4 separate regions of the Homo sapiens genome follow, and all the other regions are linked to region 1. The links come from fine-mapping of genetic effects on gene expression. A gene starts in region 1. Each other region holds a variant in brackets. All regions are shown on one strand. Distances are between the middles of the regions. Region 1 holds the start of DPY19L1 (dpy-19 like C-mannosyltransferase 1). Region 2 overlaps LOC105375228 (a long non-coding RNA gene). Region 3 overlaps LOC105375228 (a long non-coding RNA gene). Region 4 overlaps DPY19L1 (dpy-19 like C-mannosyltransferase 1).

The links.
Region 2: its variant is fine-mapped to the expression of DPY19L1 in whole blood (INTERVAL, PIP above 0.99).
Region 3: its variant is fine-mapped to the expression of DPY19L1 in whole blood (TOPMed, PIP above 0.99).
Region 4: its variant is fine-mapped to the expression of DPY19L1 in whole blood (INTERVAL, PIP 0.99).

The regions. Positions count from the first base shown.
Region 1 is chr7:35,034,385-35,039,948 of GRCh38, forward strand. It overlaps DPY19L1 (dpy-19 like C-mannosyltransferase 1), which reads right to left and starts at 3,101. Exons shown (of 22, transcript NM_001366673.1): 1 at 2,713-3,101. The coding sequence starts at 3,010. LOC105375228 (a long non-coding RNA gene) reads left to right here and starts at 2,402. Exons shown (of 3, transcript XR_001745162.3): 1 at 2,402-2,537. RefSeq lists silencers at 2,791-2,960, 2,991-3,660 and an enhancer at 3,711-3,940.
Region 2 is chr7:35,076,456-35,082,019 of GRCh38, forward strand. All of the region lies in intron 1 of LOC105375228 (a long non-coding RNA gene), which reads left to right. It also overlaps the pseudogene DPY19L2P1. Among named protein-coding and RNA genes, the nearest start is that of DPY19L1, 42 kb to the left of the region's middle. The variant G/A (reference allele first, on the strand shown) is at 3,019.
Region 3 is chr7:35,093,415-35,098,978 of GRCh38, forward strand. All of the region lies in intron 1 of LOC105375228 (a long non-coding RNA gene), which reads left to right. It also overlaps the pseudogene DPY19L2P1. Among named protein-coding and RNA genes, the nearest start is that of DPY19L1, 59 kb to the left of the region's middle. The variant T/C (reference allele first, on the strand shown) is at 2,992.
Region 4 is chr7:34,989,438-34,995,001 of GRCh38, forward strand. DPY19L1 (dpy-19 like C-mannosyltransferase 1) reads right to left here. Exons shown (of 22, transcript NM_001366673.1): 7 at 447-504. Among named protein-coding and RNA genes, the nearest start is that of DPY19L1, 45 kb to the right of the region's middle. The variant T/C (reference allele first, on the strand shown) is at 2,929.

The DNA of each region.
Region 1 (5,564 bases):
TCAGCTGTGGTCAAAAAAGTTTGGGAAACATTGTCAAGGTTCTTACTATGTCACAGCCACCTCTGCATGAGGAAGCTATCAGGTTGAAACTTCTAAAAATAAACATGTCAAGAACCCCTCTTTACAAATATTAGCACTAAATAAGTAGCAAATAATGCCCCACAATAAGAAAAACATATATTTATGAAAAGAGACTTTTCAACAATGCTTAACCCTGCCCAACAGTGGAAAGACCATGTTGGAAGGCAGTGAGTTCCTCATCAGTGATTAGAACCTATGGAGGAAAGCCCCAGACAGTTTCTAACTCTTGAAAATGTGTGTTTCTATCACGGAGCTTTAAGTTACAAAATTACTTTCTAAATAGAAATGAATCCATTTCTGTCTAGCTTAATATTTAGTTGTTATAATTGTTCTTTTTTTGATCAGTTACAAATGAACTCTTGATGAACAAAAGAATATGCAATGCAATGTGGAAAACCAAACAGCTATTTTAAAGTCCCACATTGAAATACTGTATAATGTCAGCTCAACTCTCACTCATTCTGGGAGGGGGGAAGAAAACAGGAAATAAGGCAGCTTTCAAAAATGTCTAAACTCTGCTCCTCTCTGCAGGATCTGAGTGGTTTTTTGACGCTGTGGCAGGGCATAATCGTGGGGAAGAAATAGGTCTGACATCAGTTTATGACGGTACAGAGCCAGAGAAAGAAGCAACCCAGGTCCAATCATTCAGCAGAATCATCTCTCAAGGTGCCCTGGGGCCTCATGCAGAGGGTTAACAAGGACAGAAAGTCTCTAGACCTGGGTCTGTTCATCCAACTTCCATATATCTGATGGCCATGGTCCAGGGTACACCCAAAAATACAATCTACCACATTCACTGTACCTCCTTTCAATGCTCAAAGGGGCAAGTCAAGCAACGTGCTATACTGTTACATTAATACAAAACTGTATTTAGGTATGGGAATTACTAAATCCAAAGGTAAGTCATCCAAATATAAGTCATGCATCCATCCAAAGAAGATTCAAAGGAAACGCAATCAAAAAAGAAAATATGCAGAAAATAGCAATAAATATCATTATTCTAAGATTTGTTATTGTAACATCCCTGAAGAAGCAATGCCATTCTATATTTTACTACAAAGTGGTTAATGTTTAGTCATTCAATAAAAATGCAACTCCATTCTGTCATCAGATCTCAAATCAGCATCACACACTTTCTTTTATTACAACAACTACAATGTGTCAAGTGCTCTAAACACAAAGTATCTTCCCATGTATCACCCACACCTTTTAGTTATGATCCTTAACAGATCCTGTGGATCCCTGTGGAGTAAATTCGCCATGTGATAACCCCCCACTAGCAGAGAACGAAAGACTCACAAAGGAACCTGAAACTTAAACCAAACTGAACCGCTGTGTACTAGATCTGAAGGCTCTGCCTCATCCACTGTATCGTGCTGCCTCCCCAAGGTGAGCTTTTCTAACCTGCATACTAGCCAGCTTTTCAAGCTTGCTACTGAGATAAAAAAAAAGGGGGCGGGGGGAAATGTGCTGGAAACAGACAAACAAACAAACAAAGAAAAACAAACTTGGTTTTTCTAGGCTTGAATCGGCAATGGGGGGAAAAAAAGTACCCTAGGAACAACCTTCTTGAGCCCATTAAAACATACAGAGATGACTGGCTTTTTATGACTGAGTGGCTTTTATTTGTGGCTGTGATCTCAGGGGAAGCCAATTTGCTGTGTCCTATTCCTTGACTTATACTGGACCCCAACTCCTGGCTAAGGGAACTTTGAGTCACCAAGGGAATCTGAAAATATACTAAGGGATAAATCAACAGTAATTAAATAGTTCAGTAGCGAAAAGCCCACTGAGGCATATAGAAAAAAGCAATGTAACAGCATTTCACTAGTTGACTTAGAAAAATTAGGCCTGTTATCCAAACTGCTACAACTTGCCTTATCAAAATTCAACCAGGAAACAGAGGAAACCTGAAGTCAGTCCGAAACATACGAATGCGTCAACTTTGTTTTTTTTTTTCAGCACATCATTACACATCATCCATTTGGTAAATGGCAGAGGGAGGGGAGGAGAGCCCTCCTCACCAAAGGTTCCAAGGGCAGCAGGGAGGATTAAGGCTCGGGCGCCCCAAACACAACACAACCTAGAAAGTGACGTGTCGAGGGGAATCACAAATAAAGTGCCACCAGCGGCGTTTGCGGCCAGGAAGAAAAAAGTACGCTAAAATTTAATTATAAGTTTAAGCAACTCTCTACGACATGGAACGTGCGTTTGCTTTGAGCTCCACGGAATCGTTTCCAAGCCAAAGCAAACCATCCTGGCGGTCAGAGGCCGAGATAACGGGAAGGCGGCCAGTCGTACCAATCAGCAGCGCTCAAGTCTCGTTAGCGCAGACCTGCTGCCCGCGGCCAGGCCGGGCAGCTGTTGATCCCCGGGCCATTCTTTTAAAGCCCAGGCAGAGCGCGGGTGGGAAGCGTGCGAGGAGAGCTGAGCCAGGGAGTTGCGGGGAGGAGAAGGTAAGAATGTCCCAGAGAAAAAGTCGGAGAGGGCTGCAAACTGGCTGGTCCGGCTGGCGGGGCTCGGCGCGGCGGAAGCGGGAGGAGAGGGGAAGGAAGGGGAGGGGAGGGGAGGGGAGGGGGCCAGCGCCTCAAAGTTCCGCGTCCCGGCGGCGCCGGCGCTAGGGCTGCTCACCTAACAGGAGCGTGGTCCAGGTCCGGCCGCGCCCCGCGCGCCGCAGGCCCAGCGCCCAGCGCAGCCGGGCGGCCAGGCGCCCCCCAAGGCCGCCCCCGGCGGGCGGCGCGCCGGGCTCGGCGCGGGGCCCCTTCCTGCCCGCGGCGCCCTTGCGCCCCGGGGACAGGGGCGCGCGCTCGGGCCCCGGCTCCCCGGCGCCGACGTCCGACGCCCCCCTCAGCGGCGACTGTGAGGCGCGGGGTGGCTGGGGCGGCTTGGGAGCCGCCTCCCGGTGCTTGTTCCGCGCCTGCAGGACCATCTTGGCATAGTCGCGCCCGCTCGCTGCGCGCGCCCGGACGGCGGCCAGAGAACGGCGGGCTGGCTGGGCGGCTGGGCGCAGCTCACTCTCCAGCGGGCGGGCGGGCGGAGGGTGGAGGGCGGGCTCGTCCCTCCCCGCGGGCCGGGAGGCGGGGAGATCGTGGAGGCCGGGCGGCTGCTGCCTGGCTGGCAGTACCGCCGGGAGGCGGCGCCGGACTTGCTAGCCCGCCGCCGTTGCCGCCGCTCCGGTTGTCACGGCGACCGCGGAACGCCGGGGGGCGGGGGCGGGGACACCCTGCGAGCGGCCGCGGCCCCGCCCCCGCCGCCCCTCTGCGCCGGACGCGCGCTCCAGGCCGGCCAGCGCGCACGCGCGGACTTCCGGCGCAGGCGGGGCCCGACCCCTCTGGCGCCCGGCTACCCACACCTCTTCGGCGCCCGCGCGGGGCTCGGCCGGTGCGAGGACGCGGGGGCGGACGGCCTTCCGGAGGCGGCCGCCCTTCCATTGTGGGAGTGATGGGGCCGAAGGAAGAGCCCTCTCGGGATCGGGGCGCTGATTCAAGTTTCGGAGCCTGTTAAGGCTGCGCTTGGAGCCCGCGCAGGCGAGACGCGGCGGGGCAGGGAGAAGGCGCCCGGAGCGGCCACTTAGGGGCGCTGTGCGTGCGCCCTGGGCGCCTGGTCGGCCCCACCGATGTGAAGCGCGCGGGTGGCAATCAAGTCACCGTCTCCGTTTACTCCCCGCAGTGTGGTCGCGCAACTTGGAGCGCAGCCCCTCACTCACCGACAAGAAGAACGGGTGCGACCCGATTTAAGATAGTAACAGAGTATTAAAATAGCAGCCTGGAATCTCATGGGGAGCTGATAAGGGACGAGGCACAAGTGTAAACTGAAGACCAGGGTAGGAGCCAGGCTGAAGGTGATAGGATGGATTGGCTGGAGCAGGAAAGATCATCAATAAGTACATTCAGTTTGTTACACTTGCTGTAACCTTGTTGCTTAATAGGAAGCAGGAAAACTTGGCGTTGATAAGATAGGAGATTTTAGTCGAAAATATGTTTTCTTTTACATAGCAGAATGCACGAGTAAATTAAACCCGGGAAAATTTAGAAACCCAGGTAGATCCCAATTCTCCCTCCACCCCTGCATTCTTTGCACACAGTCTTACAACAGCATGGATTACAACTGGGAGGTTCCTTTCCTGGCCGTGCCCAGTGGCTTGTTCCAAAAAGTTGTCTTTAAGTCCCAATGTTGTAAATCAAGGCCCATCGTTCTGCTTATCTCTATTGTAATTCCAGGGACTTCACGTGGCTTTCTCGCTCTTTGTTTCTTTGCCCAGTGATTTCTTTACTAATACCAGCATTCGTTCATTGTTAGCCTTTTTAAGAGACAGTGGATTATTTTGTAAAGGGAGGGTGTTTGCCATGCTAATTAATACTCCCTCATACCCTGTCTAGTTTATGAATTTGGATTTTCCAATGTCTTTATTGGAGCAAAGAACAACTATTTTTATACACTGGTTTAAAAAATAATGGTTGAAAGTAGGATGCAGAAGGCTTGGATTCTGAAACATTGTGTCAGCTGAACTCAATGCTACCTCTGGGATTAATGTTGAATGTATTCAGTTAAAAGAAAGCTAATTCAATGCCTATTAAAGATAATACGAATAACTGGCCGGGCACCGTGGCTCACGCCTGTAATCCCAACACTCTGGGAGGCCGAGGCGGGCAGATCACGAGGCCAAGAGTTCAAGACCAGCCTGGCCAAGATGGTGAACCTCTGTTTCTAATAAAAATACAAAAATTAGCCAGGCGTGGTAGCAGGCGCCTGTAGTCCCAGCTACTTGGGAGGCTGAGGCAGAAGAATCGCCTGAACCCGGGAGGCGGAGGTTGCAGTGAGCTGAGATACGCCACTGCACTCCAGCCTGGGCGACAGAGCGAGACTCCATCTCAAAAAAATAAATAAATAAAAATAATACAAATGATGGATTTTTTTTAATGATTAGAAAGACGCATGGAAAAAGAGGTTCAACATTTGAATTATTAGATTGCTGTGTGTCTACTTTATGTGATAGGCCCTGAATTCAGGAACTGCCTCCCTTAAGCTGGTACCGTTTGTACCAGGAAAACACTTGTTGAATGAGTGAGTGAATGAATGCAGTTCCACAAGTGCTTGTCAGTTCCCCTTCTCGGCTTGGCAACCATGCGGAGAGGGGCAGTGTGAGGTATTAGTTTTTTGGTTTTTTTGTTTTGTTTGTTTTTTTCTTAAACACGGTCAATTTAGATCCAGTTTGCAGCCACTACATTGACCCATACCAGCCTTGACCAAGGTATTATACCTCTTTGAGTCTGGATTTCTTCATTCTTAAAATGGAGGCAACAAAAACATCTAGTTCACAGGTTTGTAAAAAATAAGACAATGTGTGTAAAGCATCTAACAATTACATATATCCAAGTAGTTGCTCAGTGAATGTTCAAATTGTCTGGATGTTGGTAGTTGCTCAATAAGTGTTCAAAGTAGTGGATGACGTTTAAGGAGAGTGGCAAACTTCTGTCCTCCCA
Region 2 (5,564 bases), 42 kb after region 1:
AACAGAAAACCAAATACTGTATGTGCTCCCTATAAGTAGGAGCTAAACACTGAGCCCACATGGACAAAAAGAAGGGAATAATAGGCACCAGGGCCTACTTGAGGGTGGAGGGTTGGAGGAGAGCGAGGACTGAGAAAATACCTATCAGGTACGATGCTTATTACCTGGGTGACAAAATAATCTGTACACCAAACCCCATGACATGCAATTTACCTATATAACAAACCTGCAAATGTACTCCTGCACCTAAAATAGAAGTTGGAAGGAAAAAAATACATTGCACAAATGGAAACAATAAAATCTACAATTTGAACATTTATTTGAATAGCTGGACGTGTCATCAGAACAACTCTTGATGCTTATTTAGGCTCCCAGAGTTACCTAAAGAGAACATGAGGTTTAAGAACCACTGATGAGGAATCAAAGCCCTACTTTGAAGAGTATAAATATATATTAAGCATTATATACATATATACACACACATTTTAAAGAATTATAAAATGAACACTTGTATACTTAACACCAAGGAATTGAATATTAACATTGAAGCACCCAGGGCTTCTCCTGTATTGCATTCTTTCCTAGAAGTGATCACCAGCCTATGTTTTGAATTAATTATGCCTATGCTTTCGCTGTTTTGCCACACTATATCTTCTATAATATTGTCTTGTTTGCTTTTAGGCCCTATGTAAATGGCATATATATTGACATGCACACACATCCCCTTTGATGACTTAGTTTTTTAACAGTCTATTTGACATTGGTTCCCACTGATGCTTGTCACTGTAGATCACATTCATTCCTTTACAATATTACGTTGTATGGAAATATCCATTTTATCCATTCTGTTGGTGGGCCTTTGAGTTGTTTTCAGCTTTTTTTCCTCAGGTACAAATAATGCTTCCATGAAGATTCTTGTAATTGGTTTCCTTGGTATATTTGTAACAACATTTCTTTAGGGTGACACTATAAATTGCAGAGACTACATACTTTAAAACTTATTAGGAATTAACAACTTATTTTCTAAGGTGGCTGTACCAATTTACACTCCTACTATAATTTCATGAGAGTTCTTGTGGCACCCTGTCCTCACCAATTCTTATCTGAATGTAAATATTACCATGTGGTTTTAATCTGTATTTCCCTATTTTCTTCTAAGACTTTAAACATTTTACTTTCATTTAAGTCCTTGACCCATTTAAATTTGACTTTTGTGCATGAAGTTATATATATATACCTGTCCTTTTGAAAATGTCCTTATATTTCTCTTATTAAGAATTTTCAAAGATTTTTCTTTCCCCTTATCTCAATCCCCATCCTTTATGAACAGACTCGATGAATTAAAGAATATGAACCCATACAGAGCTTCAGAGACATACACTTTCTAAAGAATATGGTGAGTTTTTCTGGACATAGAACAAATACAAATGAGAATAATAACAAATACTATTTTGGGCCTCACAAATTAGCAAAATATATTCTTAATAAGGCTAATTAATCCCAGTGAGAGTGTTGTAAAATGAGCATTGTTATACACACTAACTTTTGGTGGTGCATACAATCCAAAAGGTGCACACATACCTTTGCAAAGGTAATTTGAGGCTAACTGCATTGAAGGCTTTAAGGGTGTCCACAGTTTTTTTAAGGAAATTTAACTTTATGAAATCTTTCCTATGGAAATAACTTTAAAATCATAAAGTATGCACTAAGATGTTCATTGCAGTGTCTGTATGTATATCTTAACCACTTTTGAGCTATTGCCATTTTTGCTGCTATGTGTATGTATATATATAATTGTCCCCTTCTTTAAAATGTCCTGTTTTTTTCAAAACTAATTTTTCTGTGAGTTTGTCCTTCGTGTATAATAGGAACATGTAATGTATAAAAATATAAACATAATTTTATTATTAAAGTACTCAGATTTTTGGTGTCTATCAGCAGCAAAGTGGTAGAACACAGATACTGTTGAAGCTGTGCATTTGCTTCTGACAACCGGATGAAGCAGATGAAGGAATTGTTGCAGCTTGTGTGCACCTCACTTCTAGCCATAGTTGCAGATTAGTGTGCAAACATAGGATCCTAGAAACTATGGAAAAAGCTTCATTGAATTAAGTGAAAATCTCCTCATGTTTCAAAAGAATAAAAAATAAAATTTATACAGGCAAGAATTCAGTAGAACAATTTGTATAAGAACAAGCTGCAGCCCAGTACTCCTATTTGTTGACATCAAATAAAGGGGAGACTATTTGGAATTCTGAAATGAGCTAACCTCACTCTGCAACTTGATATTACTGAAATGGTTATTAGTGAGTTGTAGTGGGTAGTGCAGAAGAAACTAATGTTTGTTGAGTGCCTTTATGTGCCAGGTACTTCAAAACTTTGTTTCACTAATCCTCATAATGACTCCGCCAAGTAGGTATTGTGAGTTCTGCTTTACAGGTGAAGAAAGCTCATGGAGTTAAGTAACATGACCAACCATAGCATGGTGCCTGACATACAGTAAGTGTTTAATGAATATCTTTTGAATACATGGTAGGTACCTAACTAATGGAAGCAGTATTCAAACTTCGATACATCTCATTGCACAGCTCACACTATTTCCATCATAGTATATTGCCTTCTGTGTAAGACTATACAGAATCATTTTTAAATGGCTAAGAAAGAGCACTGCCAGTGTAAACATGGCTAGTAAGCCCAGCAACCTATTTCTCCCTTTATATGAGAACAATTTCAATTTCAAAATGTATGCATTGTGAAGGATGAGAAAAGACAGAAAACAGGATCTTCAAGGGCTTTACAGTTACTTAACACAGCTAGTACATGAAAATAACATAAATATATATGAAAACATCGTATGTGTATGGAACATTTTATTAGTACAGCTCATCCATTTTTTGTTGAGTTCTACTGACTTTTTAAAATTTATTTTACTTTAAGTTCTGGGATACATGTGCAAAACATGCAGGTTTGTTACATAGGTATACATGTGCCATGGTGGTTTGCTGCACCTATCGACCC[G/A]TCATTTAGGGTTTAAGTCCTGCATGCATTAGGTATTTGTCCTAATGCTCTCCCTCCCCTTGCCCCCCACCAACAGGCCCTTGTGTGATGTTCCCCTCTCTGTGTCCATGTGTTCTCATTGTTCAACTCCCACTTATGAGTGAGAACATATGGTGTTTGGTTTTCTGATCTTGTGTTAGTTTGCTGAGAACGATGGCTTCCAGCTTCATCCACGTCCCTGCAAAGGACATGAACTCATCCTTTTTTATGGCTGCATAGTATTCCATGGTGTGTATGTGACACATTTTCTTTATCCAGTCTATCATTGATGGGTATTTGGGTTAGTTACAAGTCTTTGCTACTGTAACATCATCTGAAATGTGTTACTTTAATTTTATGTTAGGTGTTACGTCTCTTTTCCTTTTTTGTCCCACACATCACTGAAACAGATTATTTGAAAATGCTAAAATAAGTAAAATGTGCGGCATGCTTTCTTAGATGCTTTGTCTCCTGTACCAAAATAATTTACAAATACAAAAGTTGGAAATAATTTTATTAGTTTTTTAATGCATAAATCCAAACATATATATGTACTGAATATTTTATTAGCTAATACAGTACCATTTTAAAAATTCTACCAACTTAAACTATTTCCTGTAAAAACATCATCCAAAATATACTTTGTTAATTTTTATGAATGTTATTTTTTTAAGTCTCTTTTCTTTGACGCTCTCCTTTTTTATCCTGTGCTTACACCAAAAACAAATTATTTGAAAATGCTAAAATAAAATGTGGCATGTTTTCTTAGCTGTTATGTATTCTGTTATAACATTTTACAACTATTAAAGTTGAAAAATAACTTTATTGGTTTTGCTGCATATAGCTGCCTGTCTGCTATAAGAGAACTAATCTATAAAATTAAGGCATTTTGTTATTTCAAGTGTAGAGGGGCAAGAATGTAAGGGAATTATAAAAACCCCAAGATGACTCATTTAAAGTAGATGCACATTAAAATACTATAGATCTGGCATATTTCATATTTATAAAGCAGACAAAAAGAATGTTTATCTTTGCATTTGGCAAGAGTATCTATCTTCAAGATAACTACCACTTTTCAAAGCACTATTGTTGGGTAGGTTTTATTAGGGGAGAGGACTTAGAAAACATGACTTTCCTCATCCAAAACCAAAAATAAATGAGGGCTTAAAAATATATTATTTAAGAAGATGATAGTGGCCAGAAATAAAGACCATGACCAACAAGCTTTGGGGCCATCAAGATGAAAAGCCGTTTGCTTTATTCAAGATCTAGGATCTGAAAATCTCACTTCATAAATTTAACTGGATTTTCTTTTCTGATTATGTTTAACCCCAAAATTTGGTTGTATACCATAGCAGTTTCTATTTTACCTGGATGTTAAAAGAAAAACCATTGGAATCTAAAGAGAGATGAATAACCTCTTGAGCTTAGATGGAGAACTAACCAGTGGCAAATATGTATCTAGTGGGGTAAATACATCTCAAGAGATTCAAAACGTTACAAAACAAGGTGTTTTTAAAAACACTTCAACTTGAAATTATAAAAAAAAAGTATTAAAAGGTATTAGAGATCTTTCTTAAGGGCTGGTGAAATAAAAACACCTTAAAAGACACACTGTTACAATTTGCTCACAGAGGTAAAGAGGTTGTGATCAGTATCAGCATTTTAAGGATGTCATTTCAGAGCTTGCGTTCTTCTCCCTTAAGTGGTTCAAAGAGTTTGAGCAGGTACACTCTGGTACTAGGGAAAATCTGAAGCAATTCACCTAGTTGGATGAAAAAGGACTTACGTACCCTTGATTTATTAAAATTCATTGTTCTTTTATATACATTTTTCTTTAAAATTCTGAAATGAACATTTGTTTATGCAGTATGACATGAATGATTTAATAACTTATATGACAAGCTTAATAAGGCTGACATTCAATGAACAGAAAAGTAATTTACCTTTTAGTAATCAGAGAAACTTTCAATCCATTTTTATCTTATTTTTAAGTGTCTGTTATTAAAGCTTGTGATTTTTATTAATGTAAATAAGCCAAAGGGTGATTGTTTTTGACACACCACATTGTGCCATAGTGTAATGGGTAGTTTCCTTCTCAGTTAACCCTCAATACTCTGTACACACTATTCTGAAATACTGTGGTGAAGTAAGGCCTGGCATCTTTGAGCAGGACGCTACATAAGGGAGGGTTAGCTGCATTGGAAGGGTCTTCCACATCACAGATTTCAAGCATACTGCAACCAGGCCTGAAAAAAGACAGACATATATATCCATATTAGAAATGTATTCCTGTCTAGAGAAAATAGATACATAACACAACATCTAGATTTTCAGAGACAAATTTATTTCATAAGTTAAATATTTTAAAGCGTCATTTCAAAAAACAATTTCAATGTTTAGAAATTTAAAAAATAGAATGAAATTAAGCATGTTGCATTTTCACATCTCATTTAACCAAATGAAAGACATATCCTAATAATAAAGCTTCAATATACATTCATAAATATATATGTAAAAGCACACTT
Region 3 (5,564 bases), 59 kb after region 1:
CTTGCTTAGGTAAACAAAGCAGCCTGGAAGCTCGAACTGGGTGGAGCCCACCACAGCTCAAGGAGGCCTGCCTGCCTCTGTAGGCTCCACCTCTGGGGGCAGGGCACAGACAAACAAAAAGACAGCAGTAACCTCTGCAGACTTAAATGTCCCTGTCTGACAGCTTGGAAGAGAGCAGTGGTTCTCCCAGTACGCAGCTGGAGATCTGAGAACGGGCCAACTGCCTCCTCAAGTGGGTCCCTGACCCCTGACCCCCGAGCAGCCTAACTGGGAGGCACCCCGCAGCAGGGGCACACTGACACGTCACACGGCAGGGTATTCCAACAGACCTGCAGCTGAGGGTCCTGTCTGTTAGAAGGAAAACTAACAAACAGAAAGGACATCCACACCAAAAACCCATCTGTACATCACCATCATCAAAGACCAAAAGTAGATAAAACCACAAAGATGGGGAAAAAACAGAACAGAAAAACTGGAAACCCTAAAATGCAGAGTGCCTCTCCTCCTCCAAAGGAACGCAGTTCCTCACCAGCAACTGAACAAAGCTGGATGGAGAATGACTTTGACGAGCTGAGAGAAGAAGGCTTCAGACGATCAGATTACTCTGAGCTACGGGAGGACATTCAAACCAAAGGGAAAGAAGTTGAAAACTTTGAAAAAAATTTAGAAGAATGTATAACTAGAATAACCAATACAGAGAAGTGCTTAAAGGAGCTGATGGAGCTGAAAACCAAGGCTCGAGAACTACGTGAAGAATGCAGAAGCCTCAGGAGCCGATGTGATCAACTGGAAGAAAGGGTATCAGCAATGGAAGATGAAATGAATGAAACAAGTGAGAAGGGAAGTTTAGAGAAAAAAGAATAAAAAGAAATGAGCAAAGCCTCCAAGAAATATGGGACTATGTGAAAAGACCAAATCTACGTCTGATTGGTGTACCTGAAACTGACGGGGAGAATGGAACCAAGTTGGAAAACACTCTGCAGGATATTATCCAGGAGAACTTGCCCAATCTAGCAAGGCAGGCCAACATTCAGATTCAGGAAATACAGAGAACGCCACAAAGATACTCCTCGAGAAGAGCAACTCCAAGACACATAATTGTCAGATTCACCAAAGTTGAAATGAAGGAAAAAATGTTAAGGGCAGCCAGAGAGAAAGGTCGGGTTACCCTCAAAGGGAAGCCCATCAGACTAACAGCGGATCTCTCGGCAGAAACCCTACAAGCCAGAAGAGAGTGGGGGCCAATATTCAACATTCTTAAAGGAAAGAATTTTCAACCCAGAATTTCATATCCAGCCAAACTAAGCTTCATAAGTGAAGGAGAAATAAAATCCTTTAGAGACAAGCAAATGCTGAGAGATTTTGTCACCACTAGGCCTGCCCTAAAAGAGCTCCTGAAGGAAGCGCTAAACATGGAAAGGAACAACCAGTACCAGCCGCTGCAAAATCAAGCCAAAATGTAAAGACCATCGAGACTAGGAAGAAACTGCATTAACTAATGAGCAAAATCACCAGCTAACATCATAATGACAGGATCAAATTCACACATAACACTATTAACTTTAAATGTAAATGGACTAAATGCTCCAATTAAAAGACACAGACTGGCAAATTGGATAAAGAGTCAAGACCCATCAGTGTGCTGTATTCAGGAAACCCATCTCACGTGCAGAGACACACATAGGCTCAAAATAAAAGGATGGAGGAAGATCTACCAAGCCAATGGAAAACAAAAAAAGGCAGGGGTTGCAATCCTAGTCTCTGATAAAACAGACTTTAAACCAACAAAGATCAAAAGAGACAAAGAAGGCCAGTACATAATGGTAAAGGGATCAATTCAACAAGAAGAGCTAACTATCCTAAATATATATGCACCCAATACAGGAGCACCCAGATTCATAAAGCAACTCCTGAGTGACCTACAAAGAGACGTAGACTCCCACACAATAATGGGAGACTTTAACACCCCACTGTCAACATTAGACAGATCAACGAGACAGAAAGTCAACAAGGATACCCAGGAATTGAACTCAGCTCTGCACCAAGCGGACCTAATAGACATCTACAGAACTCTCCACCCCAAATCAACAGAATATACATTTTTTTCAGCACCACACCACACCTATTCCAAAATTGACCACATACTTGGAAGTAAAGCTCTCCTCAGCAAATGTAAAAGGACAGAGATTATAACAAACTATCTCTCAGACCACAGTGCAGTCAAACTAGAATTCAGGATTAAGAATCTCACTCAAAACCGCTCAACTACATGGAAACTGAACAACCTGCTCCTGAATGACTACTGGATACATAACGAAATGCAGGCAGAAATAAAGATGTTCTTTGAAACCAACCAGAACAAAGACACAACATACCAGAATCTCTGGGACGCATTCAAAGCAGTGTGTAGAGGGAAATTTATAGCACTAAATGCCCACAAAAGAAAGCAGGAAAGATCCAAAATTGACACCCTAACATCACAATTAAAACAACTAGAAAAGCAAGAGCAAACACATTCAAAAGCTAGCAGAAGGCAAGAAATAACCAAAATCAGAGCAGAACTGAAGGAAATAGAGACACAAAAAACCCTTCAAAAAATTAATGAATCCAGGAGCTGGTTTTTTGAAAGGATCAACAAAATTGATAGACCGCTAGCAAGACTAATAAAGAAAAAAAGAGAGAAGAATCAAATAGACACAATAAAAAATGATAAAGGGGATATCACCACCGATCCCACAGAAATACAAACTACCATCAGAGAATACTACAAACACCTCTACGCAAATAAACTAGAAAATCCAGAAGAAATGGATAAATTCCTTGAGACATACACTCTCCCAAGACTAAACCAGGAAGAAGTTGAATCTCTGAATTGACCAATAACAGGATCTGAAGTTGTGGCAATAATCAATAGCTTACCAACCAAAAACAGTCCAGGACCAGATGGATTCACAGCCGAATTCTACCAGAGGTACAAGGAGGAACTGGTAC[T/C]ATTCCTTCTGAAACTATTCCAATCAACAGAAAAAGAGGGAATCCTCCCTAATTCATTTTATGAGGCCAGCATCATTCTGATACCAAAGCCGGGCAGAGACACAACCAAAAAAGAGAATTTTAGACCAATATCCTTGACGAACATTGATGCAAAAATCCTCAATAAAATACTGGCAAAACGAATCCAGCAGCACATCAAAAAGCTTATCCACCATGATCAAGTGGGCTTCATCCCTGGGATGCAAGGCTGGTTCAATATACGCAAATCAATAAATGTAATCCAGCATATAAACAGAGACAAAGACAAAAACCACATGATTATCTCAATAGATGCAGAAAAGGCCTTTGACAAAATTCAACAACCCTTCATGCTAAAAACACTCAATAAATTAGGTATTGATGGGACATATTTCAAAATAATAAGAGCTATCTATGACAAACCCACAGCCAATATCATACTGAATGGGCAAAAACTGGAAGCATTCCCTTTGAAAACTGGCACAAGACAGGGATGCCCTCTCTCACCACTTCTATTCAACATAGTGTTGGAAGTTCTGGCCAGGGCAATAAGGGAGGAGAAGGAAATACAGGGTATTCAATTAGGAAAAGAGGAAGTCAAATTGTCCCTGTTTGCAGATGACATGATTGTATATCTAGAAAACCCCACTGTCTCAGCCCAAAATCTCCTTAAGCTGATAAGCAACTTCAGCAAAGTCTCAGGATACAAAATCAATGTGCAAAAATCACAAGCATTCTTATACACCAACAACAGACAAACAGAGAGCCAAATCATGAGTGAACTCCCATTCACAATTGCTTCAAAGAGAATAAAATACCTAGGAATCCAACTTACAAGGGACGTGAAGGACCTCTTCAAGGAGAACTACAAACCACTGCTCAAGGAAATAAAAGAGGATACAAATGGAAGAACATTCCATGCTCATGGGTAGGAAGAGTCAATATCGTGAAAATGGCCATACTGCCCAAGGTAATTTACAGATTCAATGCCATCCCCATCAAGCTACCAATGCCTTTCTTCACAGAATTGGAAAAAACTACTTTAAAGTTCATATGGAACCAAAAAAGGGCCCGCATTGCCAAGTCAATCCTAAGCCCAAAGAACAAAGCTGGAGGCATCTTGCTACCTGACTTCAAACTATACTACAAGGCTACAGTAAACAAAACAGCATGGTACTGGTACCAAAACAGAGATATAGATCAATGGAACAGAACAGAGCCCTCAGAAATAACGCTGCATATCTACAACTATCTGATCTTTGACAAACCTGAGAAAAACAAGCAATGGGGAAAGGATTCCCTATTTAATAAATGGTGCTGGGAAAACTGGCTAGCCATATGTAGAAAGCTGAAACTGGATCCCTTCCTTACCTTATACAAAAATCAATTCAAGATGGATTAAAGACTTAAACGTTAGACCTAAAACCATAAAAACCCTAGAAGAAAACCTAGGCATTACCATTCAGGACATAGGCATGGGCAAGGACTTCATGTCTAAAACACCAAAAGCAATGGCAACAAAAGCCAAAATTGACAAATAGGATCTAATTAAACTAAAGAGCTTCTGCACAGCAAAAGAAACTACCATCAGAGTGAACAGGCAACCTACAAAATGGGAGAAAATTTTCGCAACCTACTCATCTGACAAAGGGCTAATATCCAGAATCTACAATGAACTCAAACAAATTTACAAGAAAAAAACAAACAACCCCATCAAAAAGTGGGCAAAGGATATGAACAGACACTTCTCAAAAGAAGACATTTATGCAGCCAAAAAACACATGAAAGAATGCTCATCATCACTGGCCATCAGAGAAATGCAAATCAAAACCACAATGAGATACCATCTCACACCAGTTAGAATGGCAATCATTAAAAAGTCAGCAAACAACAGGTGCTGGAGAGGATGTGGAGAAATAGGAACACTTTTACACTGTTTGTGGGATTGTAAACTATTTCAACCCTTGTGGAAGTCAGTGTGGCGATTCCTCAGGGATCTAGAACTAGAAATACCATTTGACCCAGCCATCCCATTACTGGGTATATACCCAAAGGACTATAAATCATGCTGCTATAAAGACACATGCACACGTATGTTTATTGTGGCATTATTCACAATAGCAAAGACTTGGAACCAACCCAAATGTCCAACAATGATAGACTGGATTAAGAAAATGTGGCACATATACACCATGGAATACTATGCAGCCATAAAAAATGATGAGTTCATGTCCTTTGTAGGGACATGGATGAAATTGGAAATATCATTCTCAGTAAACTATTGCAAGAACAAAAAACCAAACACCGCATATTCTCACTCATAGGTGGGAATTGAACAATGAGATCACATGGACACAGGAAGGGGAACATCACACTCTGGGGACTGTTGTGGGGTGGGGGAGGGGGGAGGGATAGCATTGGGAGATATACCTAATGCTACATGATGAGTTAGTGGATGCAGCGCACCAGCATGGCCCATGTATACGTATGTAACTAACCTGCGCAATGTGCACATGTACCCTAAAACTTAAAGTATAATAAAAAAAAAAGTAAAA
Region 4 (5,564 bases), 45 kb before region 1:
GATTCCATCTCTATAAAAAATTTAAAAAACTAGCTGAGTGTGGTGATAAGCGTCTGTAGTCCCAGCTACTCTGGAAGCTGATTCTGAGGCAGGAGGATCACCTGACCCCAAGAATTTGAGGCTGCAGTGAGCTATGATCTACCACTGCACTCCAGACTGGGCAACAAAAAAAGACACTGCCTCAAAAACAAAAACAACAACAACAACAAAAAAAAAAAACAGAATTGATACAGTTGATACAGACCCATTATTTCATCAAATTACTAAGCCTTATATCACATAAGAAGTACAATGGTCATGAAAAGTTAACTCAAATGAATGCTAGTGTTTAAATTTTGAATCAAAATAATAAGATCAAACATTTAAAGAATGCCATTATAGATTAAATTTAAAGAAGAAAACTGCATTTCCAGAAGTAATTCTGAGAATAGTTTTTGATTACCTACCTCTCCATGATTGAAAAAGAAGCACAACACTGTAACCAGGCCTCCTAATCGGCTGCCACTGGAAAAGAAGAAAACATAACTCAAATAACAAAAATTCAGGTCAATCCTAAGAAAAACCTTAAAACACATAATATCATAACCACTGGTATTATATAAGATTTTATAGTCATACTAGAACTCTCCTATGCTTATTTACAAAATAGTTTATTTCCTCCAAAAGATCATTAGTCAAAATAATCTTTTCTCATTTTTTAAAAATCATTTGCTACCTTCAAAATGTATAGACTCAGAAAAGCACGCAAACTGAAAGGGAATAGAAAATTCTTAGTAGTCATATTACTGTACATCACGCAACCTGATATTTCTTTTTATTTTCTTTAGTACCTCATATTTATTTATGTCCTTCAACATTTCTCAAACTGCTTTCCTTGGGACAGATGACATACATTAGGAAAAAGGGAGAGAAAGACGTGCAAGGAAAGGGATCCATGGTCATAAGGATGGAAAACCCCACACTGCCTACCTGCTCCTAGAAATTCACAAGGCACTTCCACACATTAAAGATTTAATTTTATATTTCCCAAATCCCATCCCCAAGCTACTTTTCTGCAGAATACACTTGAGGAATACCAATTTATAAAGTTTTATGTTTCATTTGATTTCAAAAACTGGAATAGAACACAAATATCAAAGTATGACAATCAGGCTTATAACTCTAGGTAAGAAATTACAATGGTATAATCTGGTAGTTCTAACAATTAACCTTCATTTGCTCAGATGAGAGTGAAATATGTTCCCTATTGTCCCCCAAGTCTGGGTAGGGGACATAAGGCTATCTTTAGGTTTATTTCATCATGTTCTGCATTTTTACTCTTGAGGTCTTCTCACTCATTTTAGCTCATGCTGCTTTCTCATTATTCTACCCAAATATCCTTCCTTCTTTTTCTCTATCTACCTTCCTTTTATTTCTCTATCTATAAGTATACCACAGAGAGGTCAGAGAGGAAACAAAGAACCAGATGGTATAGGCATCAAAGGCCTTGTATTTACTCTTGTGATGTATCAATGAGGAAAAGAGGAAGAGATGCAATGGCCAGCAGGGATAATCCATGTAGGGAGTATCCAGAAGGAGACAGGTAGGGCTGGGACCCCAGCACAGGTGGCCTGTTTGCCTTGGCAAAAGAGGAGGAAGACTGCATATTAGTGGTAAGTACTTTGTGGAGCTTCCATGTTCCCCACAGAGCAGAAGACACAGCCACTCGCTGCCAGAGTGAAACGATGGCAGCATTAAACGTTTGAGGAAAGACAGAAATGTCTGAAATACCACTCACATTTCAGGAGAGTGGTAACTGGGGAAAACACAGTGCTGCTGGGATATCTTAGGGGAACAACTGAGGCTGCAGAACACAAATCTACAGGGTCAGTAATCATAAGACTGTGTGATTTTTGCCTACCGATTATCAGCCTAGACAGCACAAATGAAATATAAAGGGGCAAAGAAACTGAAGCCAGAAAGTGTCTGAAGTGATGGATCACTGAAATGAGAGCATCAGACAGAGGAGCTTAGAAAGCAGTACAGGCCAGGAAGTGGACGCCAGGGTTCTCTCCTGAAAGGTGTACCACATCTTCTTCAGAAGAGAAGCACACAGGCTAGGCCCAGGCTTCATCACAAGTGATTAGACATTAGAAAGGTTAAGATAGAGTTAACGGTTTAAAAAACAAATAAATACATTTTAGTGTTTTGAACTTACTCTAACAAGACAAAAAATATAGAAGTTTATAGGGGAAAAAAAGTGATTTTCTCACTACCCTCTCCCAATCCTATTCACCTAAGAACATTTTAGTATGTGTCTGTTCTTCCAAATCTCTCTCTCTAACCACACAAACATATATTTTCTATGTGATCAATATAACATCTCTCTGAAATTTGTTCCTTTTCTAATTATTCTAGCATAAAGATTATTCCTAATCAATGTATGTAAACTTAAAGGGATTATTTTTATAGATGGCAAATACTGTATAGTACAAATATATTTATTTAGTCCATTCCATATTACCGGGCATATAAATATTTTTCAGTTTCTTGCTATAATAAAAAATGGTTAAACATCCTCGTACATGTAAATGCTGGCACGTTTGTTTCGGCAGGAGGGACCTAACTGTGAGACACGTGAGTCAAAGGATGTGAGCTGTGCCCGGAAGCACTGCAGCAGTCCACACTCTTGTCACAGAGTATGCAGGAGGTCGTTTCTCCACCCCTCGTGCAGACTCATGTGCTTTTCAAATTTTCTCCTTAGATAGGTGAAAACCCTTTTCTCACTGCCTACTTGTATGCAGTAGCATTTTAGTGTTTTGTTTTGACAACATGCATTTTCTCTTCCGTGAACTGCTTATTCATATTCTTGTCTATTTTTCTATTTGACTGTTCCCTACTTAAAAATTAAGGTTATCAAACCTCTGACTGTCAAATGTGAAAATAACA[T/C]TTAAAAGCTGTCCAAAAAAACAACCCCTTTAAGCCTTGAGAGAGATGTGACTGTGATCTGAGTCACATATGGTTACAACTTCCGTTCTCAGATTATAGATTAACTTGCTTTCTTATTTTTCCTGTTCAGTACAATGACTAGAGAATTAAACAATGTCAGGCACAAAACCTTCCTGCCTTTTTTTTTTTTTTTTTTCCAGAGACTGGGTCTCACTCTGTCACCCAAGCTAGGGTAGAGTGGCACAATCATGGCTCACTGCAGCCTCGAACTCATGGGATCCAGCAATCCTCCTGCCTCAGCCTCCAGAGTAGCTGAAACTACAGGTGTGACCCTGCCTTCGTAGTTAATAACCCCTGTTAAAGATTAATTTTCCCTGTGTTGTTTTACTTTGCTTAGATCAGACTATAGAAAACCCATCATTATTATACTCTCTGTAAAAAAAAAAAATGTTTTTAACTGTACCCTTCCCCAAAAGAAATAACACCTATAACCAATCAAACTGCTGTGACTATGTGCCAACCTGTATGAATAATGTTGTATTCCTGCTAAAAATGTCTCTGCCTCTGCCTATATAAATGAAACCTAAACTTCCTTACTTCCAAAGTCTGACTTCATTCCTTTGGAGTTCGTGTTCCTGAGTGGTCTACCCTCACACTTTGTGCTTGAATAAACGCTATTTAGATTCTGATCCTTTTGATTATTTTAAGTTAACACATATGTGTGACAAAGTATTCTGATCTAATTTGCGGCGTATTCTATCAGAAAGAATTTTTAAACTTTTATGTATTTAAATATGTTGATATTTTCCTTTATTTCTTCTGCACTTCCTGTCTTGTCTCTGAAGGTCTTCCACACCTTAAAACTATAGTCTCCTAAAATTTCTTCTAATATTATAAATTGCATTTTCCACTTAGCTCTTTCTCCCTAATTTTGTTCTCTTTGAAATAGCCAATTATATTAAAATCATTTATCAAGTAAACATCCCTTTTACCAGCGAAATGAAATTCAGCCTTTATCTTAATTTCTTACAATGCTAGACTCTGTTCTATTTCATTCAACTGACTTAATTCTGTATTTTTTTTTTTGTTATCACACTATTTTTATTACTGTAGCATTATGGTAATTTTAACACATGATTTTAAAAAGCTACCCACCCCCAACTACTCTTATTTTTAAGATTTTTTAGGTAATTCTTACCAACTTATTCTTACATATAACATCTGAACCAGTCTCCCAACCCTGCCCCCCCACCCAAGAAAAAATTGTCAGACTTCTGATCAGAATGACATTAAATTTATATATAATTTGGGTTGGGAAGGGCTGTCATTTATATGATGGTCATTCAGTTGCACAGTATATCTCTTTCCATTTACTCAATTCTAACTGTATTCCTTTAAATAAAAATGTTTGGGGTCAGGCACAGTGGCTCATGCCTGTAATCTCAGCACTTTGGAAGGCCAAGGCAAGTGGATCACTTGAGGCCAGGAGTTCGACACCAGCCTGCCCAACATGATGAAACACTATCTCTACGAAAATACAAAAAAAAAAAAAATTAGCCGTGTGGTGGCGCACAACTGTAGTCCCAGCTACTCAGGAGGCTGAGAGTCAAGATTCGTTTGAACCGGGAAGGTGGAGGCTACAATAAGCTGAGATTGCGCCGTGGCACTCCAGCCTGGGTGACAGTGAAACTGTCTCAAAAAATAAAAATTTTTTTGGACAACCAATGTAAGAGTCAAGTACTAAAAGTTAAAACTTCTAGAAATACAAAGAGAACATGATAAAATCTGATCACAGTAGAAAATTTTAATTCTTTCATAATCTAACAGGTCAAGTAAGCTAAAGGAAACATATTAGGGATCTGAAGGAGATAATCAACAAGCTCAATGTCGTGACTATACAGAGATTACACATCATTTTCTTATGTCACTGGAACATCTAGTTGCAAAGGCACCTCATTCTCTGATTAGAATCTAAAACAACCTAAAACACGAAAGATGAGTTTTTAAAAAAAATGACACTTGGGGAATTTAATGTAAAATTTCCTTTTAAAAATTCCCTGAACAACGAGGAATCAAAATGGAAATTTAATAACTTTAATTTTCTAAATGGCAGAGTAAAGGTAGAGAAAGAACAAAAGACTCACAAATCCAATTCCCTGGCGGGGCGCGGTGGCTCATGCCTGTAATCCCAGCACTTTGGGAGGCTGAGGCGGGCGGATCACGAGGTCAGGAGATCGAGACCATCCTGGCTAACATGGTGAAAACCGTCTCTACTAAAAATACAAAAAATTAGCCGGGCGTGGTGGTGGGCACCTGTGGTCCCAGCTACTCGGAAGGCTGAGGCAGGAGAATGGCGTGAACCCAGGAGGTGGAGCTTGCAGTGAGCCAAGACTGTGCCACTGTACTCCAGCCTGTGCGACAGAGCAAGATTCCGTCTCAAAAAAAAAAAAAAATCCAATTCCCCGACCAAATCTCAGGATGAGGTTTGCCTAAGAAGTCGCATACCCTCACTCAGTTGCCATACAACCTGGGAGGCTCTGAGGTTGGACAATTTCCTGAGGGCAGAGCCACGGTGACAACATTCCTTTTTCACCAAATTACTAAAATACAGGTTATGGTCCAACATCTTCCATGAA